Linked DNA regions of Homo sapiens: region 2 is linked to region 1. The links come from fine-mapping of genetic effects on gene expression. A gene starts in region 1. The other region holds a variant in brackets. All regions are shown on one strand. Distances are from middle to middle. Region 1 holds the start of IL15RA (interleukin 15 receptor subunit alpha). Region 2 holds the start of IL2RA-AS1 (IL2RA antisense RNA 1).

Evidence for each region. PIP is the estimated chance that this variant, and not a neighbour inherited with it, causes the effect. A credible set is the group of variants that fine-mapping cannot tell apart.
Region 2: its variant is the best candidate, but not a certain one, in a credible set for the expression of IL15RA in tibial nerve (GTEx, PIP 0.53).

The regions. Positions count from the first base shown.
Region 1 is chr10:5,975,010-5,980,461 of GRCh38, forward strand. It overlaps IL15RA (interleukin 15 receptor subunit alpha), which reads right to left and starts at 2,534. Exons shown (of 7, transcript NM_002189.4): 1 at 2,396-2,534. The coding sequence starts at 2,483. RefSeq lists enhancers at 788-1,057, 1,188-1,267 and silencers at 2,158-2,537, 2,628-3,297.
Region 2 is chr10:6,034,591-6,039,590 of GRCh38, forward strand. The region is part of intron 1 of IL2RA (interleukin 2 receptor subunit alpha); the gene reads right to left. It overlaps IL2RA-AS1 (IL2RA antisense RNA 1), which reads left to right and starts at 820. Exons shown (of 2, transcript XR_001747349.2): 1 at 820-1,472; 2 at 1,595-1,832. RefSeq lists a silencer at 3,915-3,974. The variant G/A (reference allele first, on the strand shown) is at 1,986.

The DNA.
Region 1 (5,452 bases):
ACATTGTTTCAAAAAAAAAAAAATTAAACATACACCTGCCATATAACACAGCCACTCTACTCCCAACCATTCTCTACCCATGAGAAATGAAAACATGTGTCCATACAGAAACCTGTATGTCAGTGTTCATAGCAGCTTTCTTTGTAATAGTCCCAAACTGGAAACAACCCAAATGTCCCTTAACAAGTGAATGGCTAAACAAATGATGGGCTAGCCATGGGTAGAATACTACTACTCAATGGTAGAAACTAATGAACTACTTATACAAATTACAACATGGATAAATTCTCAGGATAATTACTGTCTGTGAAAAAAGCCAAACAAGAAAGAGTTCCTACCGTGTAATTCTATTTATAAAAAATTTTAGAAAGTGCATCAAATTGCCTGGGAGATGGGCGAGGTGGGAGATGAGGACTGTGCAGGGCATGAGGAAGTCTTTGGGAGTGATAGTTGTGTTCACTCTTGGTGGTGGCAGTGGTTTCATGAGTATGTATGCATTTACCTCCAAACTTATCAAAGTGTGCAACTTCAATATATGCAGTTTATTGTCGGTCAATTATACCTCAATAAGGCTGTTAAAGGGAAAAAAAACAACGGCTGGGCAAGCTGGCTCACGCCTGTAATCCCAGCACTTTGGAAGGCCGAGGCGGGCAGATCACAAGGTCAGGAGTGATCACCATGTTGGATCAGCCTGACCAACATGATGAAACCCCGTCTCTATTAAAAACACAAAAGTTACTGGGCGTGGTGGCGATCGCCTGTAATCCCAGCTACTCAGGAGGCTGAGGCAGCAGAATCGCTTGAACCCAGGAGGCGGAGGTTGCAGTGAGCTGAGATCGCGCTACTGCACCCCAGCCGGGGTGACAGAGTGAGACTCCGTCTCAAAAAAGAAAACAAGAAAGAAAGAAAAAGAAAAAGAAAAAACATTGAGAGCTTTGGGAAGGGAAGGTAGCAACATCTTTCTAAGGTCAAAGGGCAAGGCTGTGCAGCTGATGAGATCAGAGATCTCACAGTGGTGCTCCCCTATCCACTCAGTCTTCAAGGAAGACACCTCCTCTCTGCTGGGCTTTGACTAAGGCTGCATTTCACTTTCATATTGTGTAATCCAGCTGCCCCAGTTGCCAGCTATGGGGTCCTGTGACACTGCTAGCCAACTGGGAGGAACCAACCGGTCACCAACTAACTCTGCTTCTCAGATGTGGGGGGAAATCCAAGCATCAGAGTCTCATGAAAACGAAACTTCAAGAAGCCTCGCAGAGCTGGGGTGGGGGTGGCAGAGGGTGGGGGGGCGTTCAGGCCACACCAGGCAGCAGCAACTGTGCGTGGAATGGCTTTGGCCAGGGCCTGGGCAGACTGGCCCGACTGGATGTAAATTATTCAGGGTCTCGCTTAAAAACACACACAGATCATGGCGTTACTAATTCCTATAGAGAGTCCATGGATGGCCTTCAGTGGGGCTTTGACCCCAAAATCATATGCACATTTTGTAACTATGTTCATTCATGCATTTTTCTGGGGGCCGGGGGTTCATAGCTTTCATCAGACCCTCCAAGAGCTCCCTGACTATAAAAAGATAAAGAAGCGCTGACAAGGATAGAGCTAGACCCTGCTACTGTTTTCCTCCTTCCTCTGGCTGCCGGGACAAAACCCCTAGGAATCGCTCATTCCGTCCTCCCTGCCGAGATCAGAGCTCCGCGACCCGCTTTCTTCTCGAATACACCAAGCGATCACAGATCTCTTCCCCCTTTTTCTGCGAGTGTAGACTCCAGGCTGGCCCCCACTCCCCACCCCCATCCGGTCCCGACCGCCTCTGCTGGTTTCCTGATCGCTTAAGAATTGGAAGTTGTTTCCAGGTCCCCAGGTGTGCAACTTGCCCGACGCGTTTCCCCCTGGGACACAGCTCCTCCCCACCCTCCCAGCTCCCACTGACATAATTTACTTTTGCCTGGGAGTCGGGAGGAGTAGTTTCTCCCGGACCCCTCCGAGGACCGCGTGCTATGCAACACCCGCCCTGCAGTCCAGGCGCCTGGGAGAAGCGCACTCGCCCGTGTCTCCAAACTGCTGGACGCCGCCGGCTCCGCGCTCCCGTGGCCAAAACGGGCTTCTCAGAACTGCTCCTGACCTCGGCCTCGGAGACCCCAGCCAGGCCGCCCGCTCCCTTACGTGGGTGACCCGGGCGCAGCGGCGGCGCTCTCCCTGCGACCCCGGCTCCCGGCACGTGTCCCTCCTGCCCGGCGCCGCGTCCCCTCCCCGGCCTGGGCCTGCGCGCACCGCGCTCCCGAGGGCACCGACGCCCCCGCACGGCCCGGGGAGATGGGGCGCCCGGTTCCCTCCAGCTCCACGTCCCGGCCCCCTTCCAAGTCCCGCCCGGGCGCCCCTGCTCCCAGCTCCCTACCCCGCGTCGCCGGCGGCCGGAGCAGCAGCAGCAGTAGCAGCGCCGGGAGACCGAGGGTCCGGCAGCCGCGCGCCCGCCGCGGGGCCATGGCGGCAGCTCCACAGGACACCGCTGGACTCCCCGGGCGAGCGCTGCCCAGGCCGGGGGGAGGTGGCGAGCGCTGCTCTGGGACCTGCCGCCCCGCCAGTCGCATTCGCTTTCGCTTTTGCTTTGGCCCCCGAGGGCTCGGAGAGGTGCAAAGCGGTGACAGATCCGTGACTCAGCGTCCCCACCCCTGCTGGGGAAGGAGCCCCGCCGGCCGCCGCGGCACCGCACAGCCACCCCTGTCCCCGGGACGCATGGGCCGTGCCCGGTGGGGACCCAGGACCTTACCCACGCAAGCCCGGGAGCCTCCCGGTCCTCCGCGCTCGTCGTGCTCTGGGACCTCCAGTGTGCACTCGGTCCGGTGTCCCCACTGCGAAGAGAGTGGGCAAAGTCATCGGAGAGCAGACTCTCTCCAGCCCTCTCTGCGGCTCGGATCCACTTGACCTCGCCCGGCGCTGGTCGCCTCCAGCTGCTCCGCCTTCGGCTTTCCTGGTCTCCCTCCGCGGCCCTGCGCTCGGTTGTGAGCGGCCGGCCTGGGTGAGTGCCCGCGGAGGTGTCGCCGCGGTGCGGAGGCGCGGGCACCTGCCTGGTGCGCTCTGGCCCGGGCGGAGCGCAGCCCCCGCCACCTGCTGGCTCCCGCGGCCCCCGGCGCCCGCTGGGGCCCCAGCTCCGCCACTTCGCCGAATTCCTGCTGCAGCTTTGCTCCCCTAGAAAATGCCTCATCTTAGAAGGAGAGGGGGCGGAGGGGGGAGAAGGGGGAGAGGAGCCACAGTGCTTCACCTCTGAGCCTCGCTTCCTTAGGTTCTTCCAGGCTGCCATCCTCCTCTTTGGCTGGTGGGTTTTTTTCTTTCTTGGGGTCTCAAGTGAAGCCTGAGAACCGGGTCTGTAAGCTCCCAAGTGCAGATTCTCAGGTCTAGCGGTGACATTGGACAGGACGAGACATCTCCAAGCCTCGGTCATTGCCTCTTAAAATCTCACAACGTGTTTATGAGGCTTTTGTGACATACTTGCAAATTCTCTTTGAAAACGAAATAATCTGTACAATAATCCCCCAAGACACAGGTTTACCTTTATAACAAACCTGCACTTATAACCCTGAACTTAAAAGTTAAATAAAAGAATTTAGGGCCGAGCGCGGTGGCCACTCCTGAAATCCAAGCACTTTCGGAGGCCAAGGCAGGTGGATCGCCTGAAGTCAGGAATTCGAGACTAGCCTGGCCAACATGGTGAAACCCCATCTCTACTAAAAATACCAAAATTAGCTGGGCATGGTGGCGGGCGCCTGTAATCCCAGCTATTCAGGAGGCTGAGGCAGGAGAATCACTTGAACCCAGGAGGCTGAGGTTGCAGTGAGCTGAGATCGCACCACTGCACTCCAGCCTGGGCAACACAGCCAGTTCCTGTCTCTTAAATTTAAAAAAAAAAAGTAGAAAGAATAATGAACCTACCATCCGGCAGTGACCACACAAGGTCCATTCTTTTTTTCTAAGCAGGAATAGCCACCCTTACTCCAACTGGGGAAATCCCACATTATTCAATTTCTCTCAATACTTAATAATAAATCTCAAGATGATAAGATCAAATTTAAAAATTAACAATATTCCTTAATATTCTCAAATATATTGAGGGTTTATTGAATGCAGGCTAAGCATAGCATGTATACAATAGAGCATTTTTTATTCTATGGACATTTATGAAGTAGAGATTTCTCCATTATTACAGACTCTTTGTAAAAGTTTTTAATGGCTGCAAATTATCATAGTTTAACATCCCCTCTATTATTTTAATATTAAAGATAACATTGTCATAAATGTCTTTCTACAAAATCTTGTGAATTTAAGATCGCTTAGAATAGATTTCCTACAGTGGAACTATTGAGTCAACTGGTAGGGAATATTTTTAAAGGCTTTTTCTCTTTTAAACAAATATTTCTATCTTGCTTTCCAAAAGTCTTGTATCAATATACCTTCTAACTAGCATTGATTGTGTTAAAGTACCCATTTTACTGCATTCTGACCAAAAGTAAATTTTAAAATTTGAAAATAAAATTGTAAATTTGGTATGCTTAAAGAACTCTATTTCATTACATATATATACGTTGTTAAATAATGTAAATTTCAAATATACTTCGAACTATAGCAATCAATAAATATAGTGGATATCCATGAGCCTACTGCCTCATCCTGTCAAAACTTAATATGTCTGCTCAATGTTTGCTTCAGATATTTTTTGGAATAAAAAAATTACAGATAAAGTTGAAGCCCCTTTGTATTCTTGCATCTTTCTCTTCCTCCGTCTTCCACTTTCTCGCAGGTAAATGTTTCTTGAAACTGGTACTCATCATTCCCAGGCATTCTTAGGCCCCTTTTCCATGTGTATGTCCATGTGCAACGGACAGGATGGCTTACATTTTTAAAAATTCATGTGATTAAGGCTGGGTGTGGTGGCTCATGACTGTAATCCCAGCACTTTGGGAGGCTGAGGTGGGCAGATCACTTGAGGTCAGGAGTTCGAGACCAGCCTGGCCTACATGGTGAAACCCCATCTCTACTAAAAATACAAAAATTAGCAGGGTGTGGTGGCACGCACCTGTAATCTCATCTACTTGGGAGGCTGAGGCATGAGAATCGCTTGAACCTGGGAGGTGGAGGATGCAGTGAGCTGAGATCACACCACTGCACTCTAGCCTGGGCGACAGAAAGAGACTCGGTCTCAAAAAAAAAAAAAAAAAATTCATATGAACAGTACCATACAGATTGAGCACCCCTGATCTCCAAATCCCAAATCCAAAATGGTCCAAAATCCAAAACTTTTTGAGCTCTGACATTACGCCACAAGTGGAAAATTCCACACCTGATCTCGTGGGGTGGGTGGCAATCAAAACACAGGCACATAACACACTGTTTATTCAGCATCCCCAAGGGGAAAAAAGACTCTCCCAGCCGCCTTCAGCTGAGAGATATCTTTTCTGTG
Region 2 (5,000 bases), 59 kb after region 1:
TTTCCCTATATTATCATTCTTTTATTTTTTAAGACAGCATACAACTGTCCTCATTCTCTAGTTTTACTCACTAACAATGCCAAAAATTACTTCTCAAAATTCAGCTAACAAGGGCTTTTCTCTGCCTTTACACTTCCTCCTGTCTTTCCAGACCCACTTCCTGCTTCTCCCAATGGGTCTTCTCAACATAAATCATTCTCTCCCGGAATATTTTCCAATTCCTAGCTCTACGCACTCCCCCAGCTCACACCAAGGGACCTGGGAGCTTGGGAGGCAGACAGAATTTTCCTTAGAAGAGGGGAAGGGGAATATTTTTCTCCCTGTAATTTTAAAGTATTGGCACGATTCTGGATGTAGACATCACCTTCTTTTCTGAGATTATTTGAAGTGTCTGGTGCCTATGGACTGTGGGAAAATTTGAGATGATCAATTCGGGAGTTGGAGGTGGGGGTGTAGGGTGGTAAACACTCAAGGCTTAGAAATTGGGGCTCCCCACCCTGCACTAGGGTCTCACACAAAGGGGTTGGCACAGGGCTGAGAAGCAGTGGGGCTCCTGTCCACCCTGCCCAGCACCTACTCCCACCAGGCAACTGAGTGGTATTTAGTCTGCAAGACTAGCCCAGAAACTTGAATGGGACCCTGAGAGAGCCAGGGGTTCCTTGGGCCCCCGCTAGGGGACTTTCTGTTTGCCCTGGGTCTCCCTGTGTGGGCAGGGATGGAGAGTGAGGGCCTGCCTTCATGGCAGTAGGCTCTGAGTGGGTGACTGGCGCCAGGCCAAGTTCTAGGTGGGCTTCCCAAAGCCACATTCAGGCAGGACGGAGCTGCTCTTGCACACGGTTTCGTGGGCTGGATTTTCTCTGTTGCACACATGCTTAGTATCTGTCTCTCCCTTTGTTCCTGAGTGGTGGGCCGCACATGAGGCTCTGAGCAGGCTATATCTCTATTCTGGCAATAAAAGTACTCTGGACACTGTTAAGGTGAGAAAAGAAAAGAAATCGGGGCTCCCAGGAGGAGAATCCTGAACCACGGGCTCTGCGGTGATGTGGCCTTCCTCTTTAGTTTTTGTGCCTTTTATGTGGGCAGAGGGAAAAAGAGACAGCCAGCAGTGATCATTAATCCTGAAAATGCCGAGGGCTTTGGCCTGGGACCCACACCAAGACAGAGTCAAACCGAGTTCTTCTAGTGTTGAGCGTGTTTCACATCTTCCGTTGGAGTTTGCTGTGGATGCTCATTAGACAGACATGGGCAGAATCCCACTTGTTCCTCGTCCTTTTCCACCTCACCTCCATCATTGTGGCTGAAATACACGATCATGGGTGTATCTTTCCTTGTGGATTTGTTGCCTCTAGGAGTTCTGTATGCAGCTGAAGGGTAACATCCCTTGGGAGCTTTTGCCTTGTCTGGCTGACGCCTTGGCAATCGCAAGTGACAGTGACGGAGAGCCACCTCCTCTGGAATGCATCATGGAACAGGTCTGGGAGAACAGAGGGTGCAGGTGAAGGGCCCTCGACAATGCTTCTCTTTGCATTGTGGGGTTTCCCCTTCAATGGATTGCTAAAGATTCAACTTCTCTGTCTCTTTGTGTGCCCGCTAGAAAGGGAAAAGCCAGGCATTTGTAGTCCTCCTGCCACAGATGACCAGAATGACCTCACCCAGGACAAACGGCGACAGATTTAGGAATTCAAGCCAGCTTTTCTGACTCCCAGGCACCTGCTCTCTCCTTTCGAGTGTTCGACTCCACTCTCAGTCACTCGTCACTCTTCCCAGAAGGACAAATGTGCAGCTTCTATGTCTTGGATTTCAAATAAAAGACGAGGAACTTGGTGAAATGAGGTGGTCTTTGCCTTCCGCGTCACTCTCTGCTCCTCCTGGCAAGAGGCCCCATTTTTCTTGCCACTGAGGTTAAGTGAAAACAAAACAAAACAAACAAACAAAAAAGAGGCCCCATTCACAGTAAAGATAAACAGCAGCCTGGGCAGGCCAGC[G/A]GCTCTTCCCTGACGTGGAATTATGAGCCCTCTTTCTTCGATTTTGCCACATACCCGCAGCTGCACTCCCATAATCTGAAAGCTGTCCCTTTAATTTTTACCACTTCATTATTAGAATTGGAGTAGAATGAAAATTAATTTTTCCCTGAGCTATTTTTGTGTCCCTTGAGTTAACCAGAAATACCAACCCTGGAAAGAGATGTGGGGGACAGTCATTTTAGAGAGCGGACACCACTGCTGAAGAAGAAGGATATCCCGGTTGGCTGCTCTAGAGCCGGCAGGACGGATGCTGAGGTTGTTCGCAGCAGCGTGTGTGCAGAGCCCCCGGGATCTTGCAGACTGGGATTTGTCAGGGCAGGTGTGGACATTGAGGCTATTTCTAACAAGCTCCTACATGATGCTGGGGCTGCAGAGCCCCAGGCCGCACTTGGAGTATGAGAGTTTCCAGGGAGTGAAGCCCCGGCTGCTCTCTCTGCCCCCTCTCCATCTGCCCCCTGGGTGAGGACAGGACTCCCATCCCTCCAGTGCACAGTGAGTGCTGCTCAATCTGCATCCACAGCGGTTTGTGCCCAGATGCTTCCTCACTCAGCGTCTAACAGGGTGCAGTGGAAACGTCATTGACTGGAGGAAAGGTGTGTGGGTGAGAAACGTTTGTCGGTTGAGTAACTTTTTGTCGTTATTTTTTTTCTCTGATGTTCAAAGTAAGAGAAAACTCATCTGGCCCCTGGAGCCCATGTGAGCAACATGAAAGATAAAGGGAAAAGGGGGCTGATAAAGATGTGGACCGAGTCTGAGATAAGATTCTTTGCCCCTTGGGTGAATCCAGGTGAAGTTGTTTTACTCTTAGCCCAGCCAGCCCTGGATAAAGGCTTCATCCCTCTTCTCTTTCCTGTCCATATATCAGAACTTTAAGCTCTACTTGTACCCAGTGAAGATTAGAATAACGCACGGAGCACAGGAAATGTCTAGGTGATGATTTCACTGAGCTTTACAAGGGACACAGGTACGCATCAAGAGCTTGGGCCACTGGGTAAAGAGGGATCTGGTTCTTGCTCTAACGCGGTTCATCTTCTGTGTCAGAATCAGATAGATTCTGGGTGTCAGAGACCCGAATCTTCCTCTTGTTCCGCTCACTGCCCCCCTGTGGCCCCTTCTCATTTCAAATGCTCTGTCTGTAATATGAAATGAAAAGAATTCCTCCCAGACCCCTAGCCAAATTTCACCTTAAGCTCGTTGACTCCCAGAGGAAATCTCTGTGGGAGACTGGAAAGAGGACGCTGGAGCCAGAGGCTATCTTTGATAGTGAGGTGAGGTTTACTGTTTAATAAGAACTCCAAAGATATGCCTAATATTGAAGGTTGTCTCTCGCTTCCTTGGGAAACCCAAACCAGAAGTTTAGGCCGTATAGAAAGTAAGTGGTTTGGGTGCAAAAGGGATGTAGAACATCCCTTTTAATGGTATCATAGAATATGAGAACTAGAAGAGAGCTCAAAGATCATTTAGGCCAACCTCTACATTTTATAGATAAGAACACTGGGCCTGTGGTCATTCCACAAGTTTGTGGCAAGCCTTGGATTACAACAGATCACCAGGTTCCCTGACTCCTAGTTCAGTGCTTTTCCAACACCCAGAATCATAATCTTCAGGAAGGAGCGTGCTTTTCACCTATCTGTTGAAGGTTATCTCTTACAAAGAGGTGGAGCTATGTCTAAACTATCTGGGTGCTGGGAGGTGTTTGTGTGATGTTGTGGTTTAGTTCAGATTATTATCTTTGAAGAAGTCAGAGGGCCCAGGCCCTCCATTTGGGGTTATCTATATAATAATAACTATGATGTCTGAGCCCTGCCTATGTGCTGCTTCTTTGCATATATTACCTTCAATGCTCACCATGGCTCTGGAAGGTAGATACTGTCATCCCCACTTTAGAAAGCAAGAGATTGAGGTTCAGAGAGATTAAGTAAGTTGGCTAAACCACACAGCTCAAGGTGGTGGGACAGGAGTCACGTGAAAGTCTACTATTGCTGCCCTCATGTCAGCCTTCTAAAAAATCTCACTTTTACTTTCAGGAAATTCTTTCAAATAGCAAACATAAATGCGCACAAAGAAGCAAGGAGGAAGAGGAGGGAACTGTGTAGAAAAGGTTTGTGGAGGCAATTTGTTCTAAGGTTATTTATTATTTGAGAGGAAGGCTATGATATTGGTTAAATCTAGGCTTTGTAAAGTCTGGATTCATGTTAAGATGTTAAAAATTACATCTAAAATGACAGAGTAAAGTGAATAACTTACAAGCTATTGGAAGAAAATAAAATAGGATAAAAACTTACTTAAATCAAAAGAAGGGGGAAATGCATAGAAAGAGAAGGTAAAAAATAAAGAACAAAATAAGACAGTGGAAATTCATCAAACTATATCAGTAATAATTATCAATGTGGATAGATTAACCCTGCAGTTACAGAATGTTGGACTGCATATATTTTTAAAAATATGCAGTTATATGATGTTTATAAGAGACATGCTTAAAGCATAAATGCTCCAAAAGTTTGAAACTAAAAGAATGGACAATTGAATCCAAGGAGTTATATTAACATCAGACTTCAAGGCAGAAGCATTAATAGAAATACAGAAGTCAGTACGTATTGCTAAAGATTCAATTCACCAGGAAAACATAAAAATGCTATATGTGTATGCACTCAAAAACATCACTTCAAAATATACAAATCAAGAATCAGGAAAACATAACACTTACGTACTTCTATGCACCCAATAACATAACTTCAAAATACACAAAGCAAATATTGACAAAACAAGGATAAATTTAGAAATCTACTATCATAATGAGAAATTTTAACAGTGTCTTCCTTTATGATGGATAGGACAGACAGAAAATCAGTAAGAACAATCAAATGTGATAACCACAATTAACAAATTTGATTCCAACAATAGCAGAGCCCACTCTTTTTTCAAGCACACATGGGACATTTACAAGGCAGTAGAGGAGTTGAAGGCAAGTTAGGG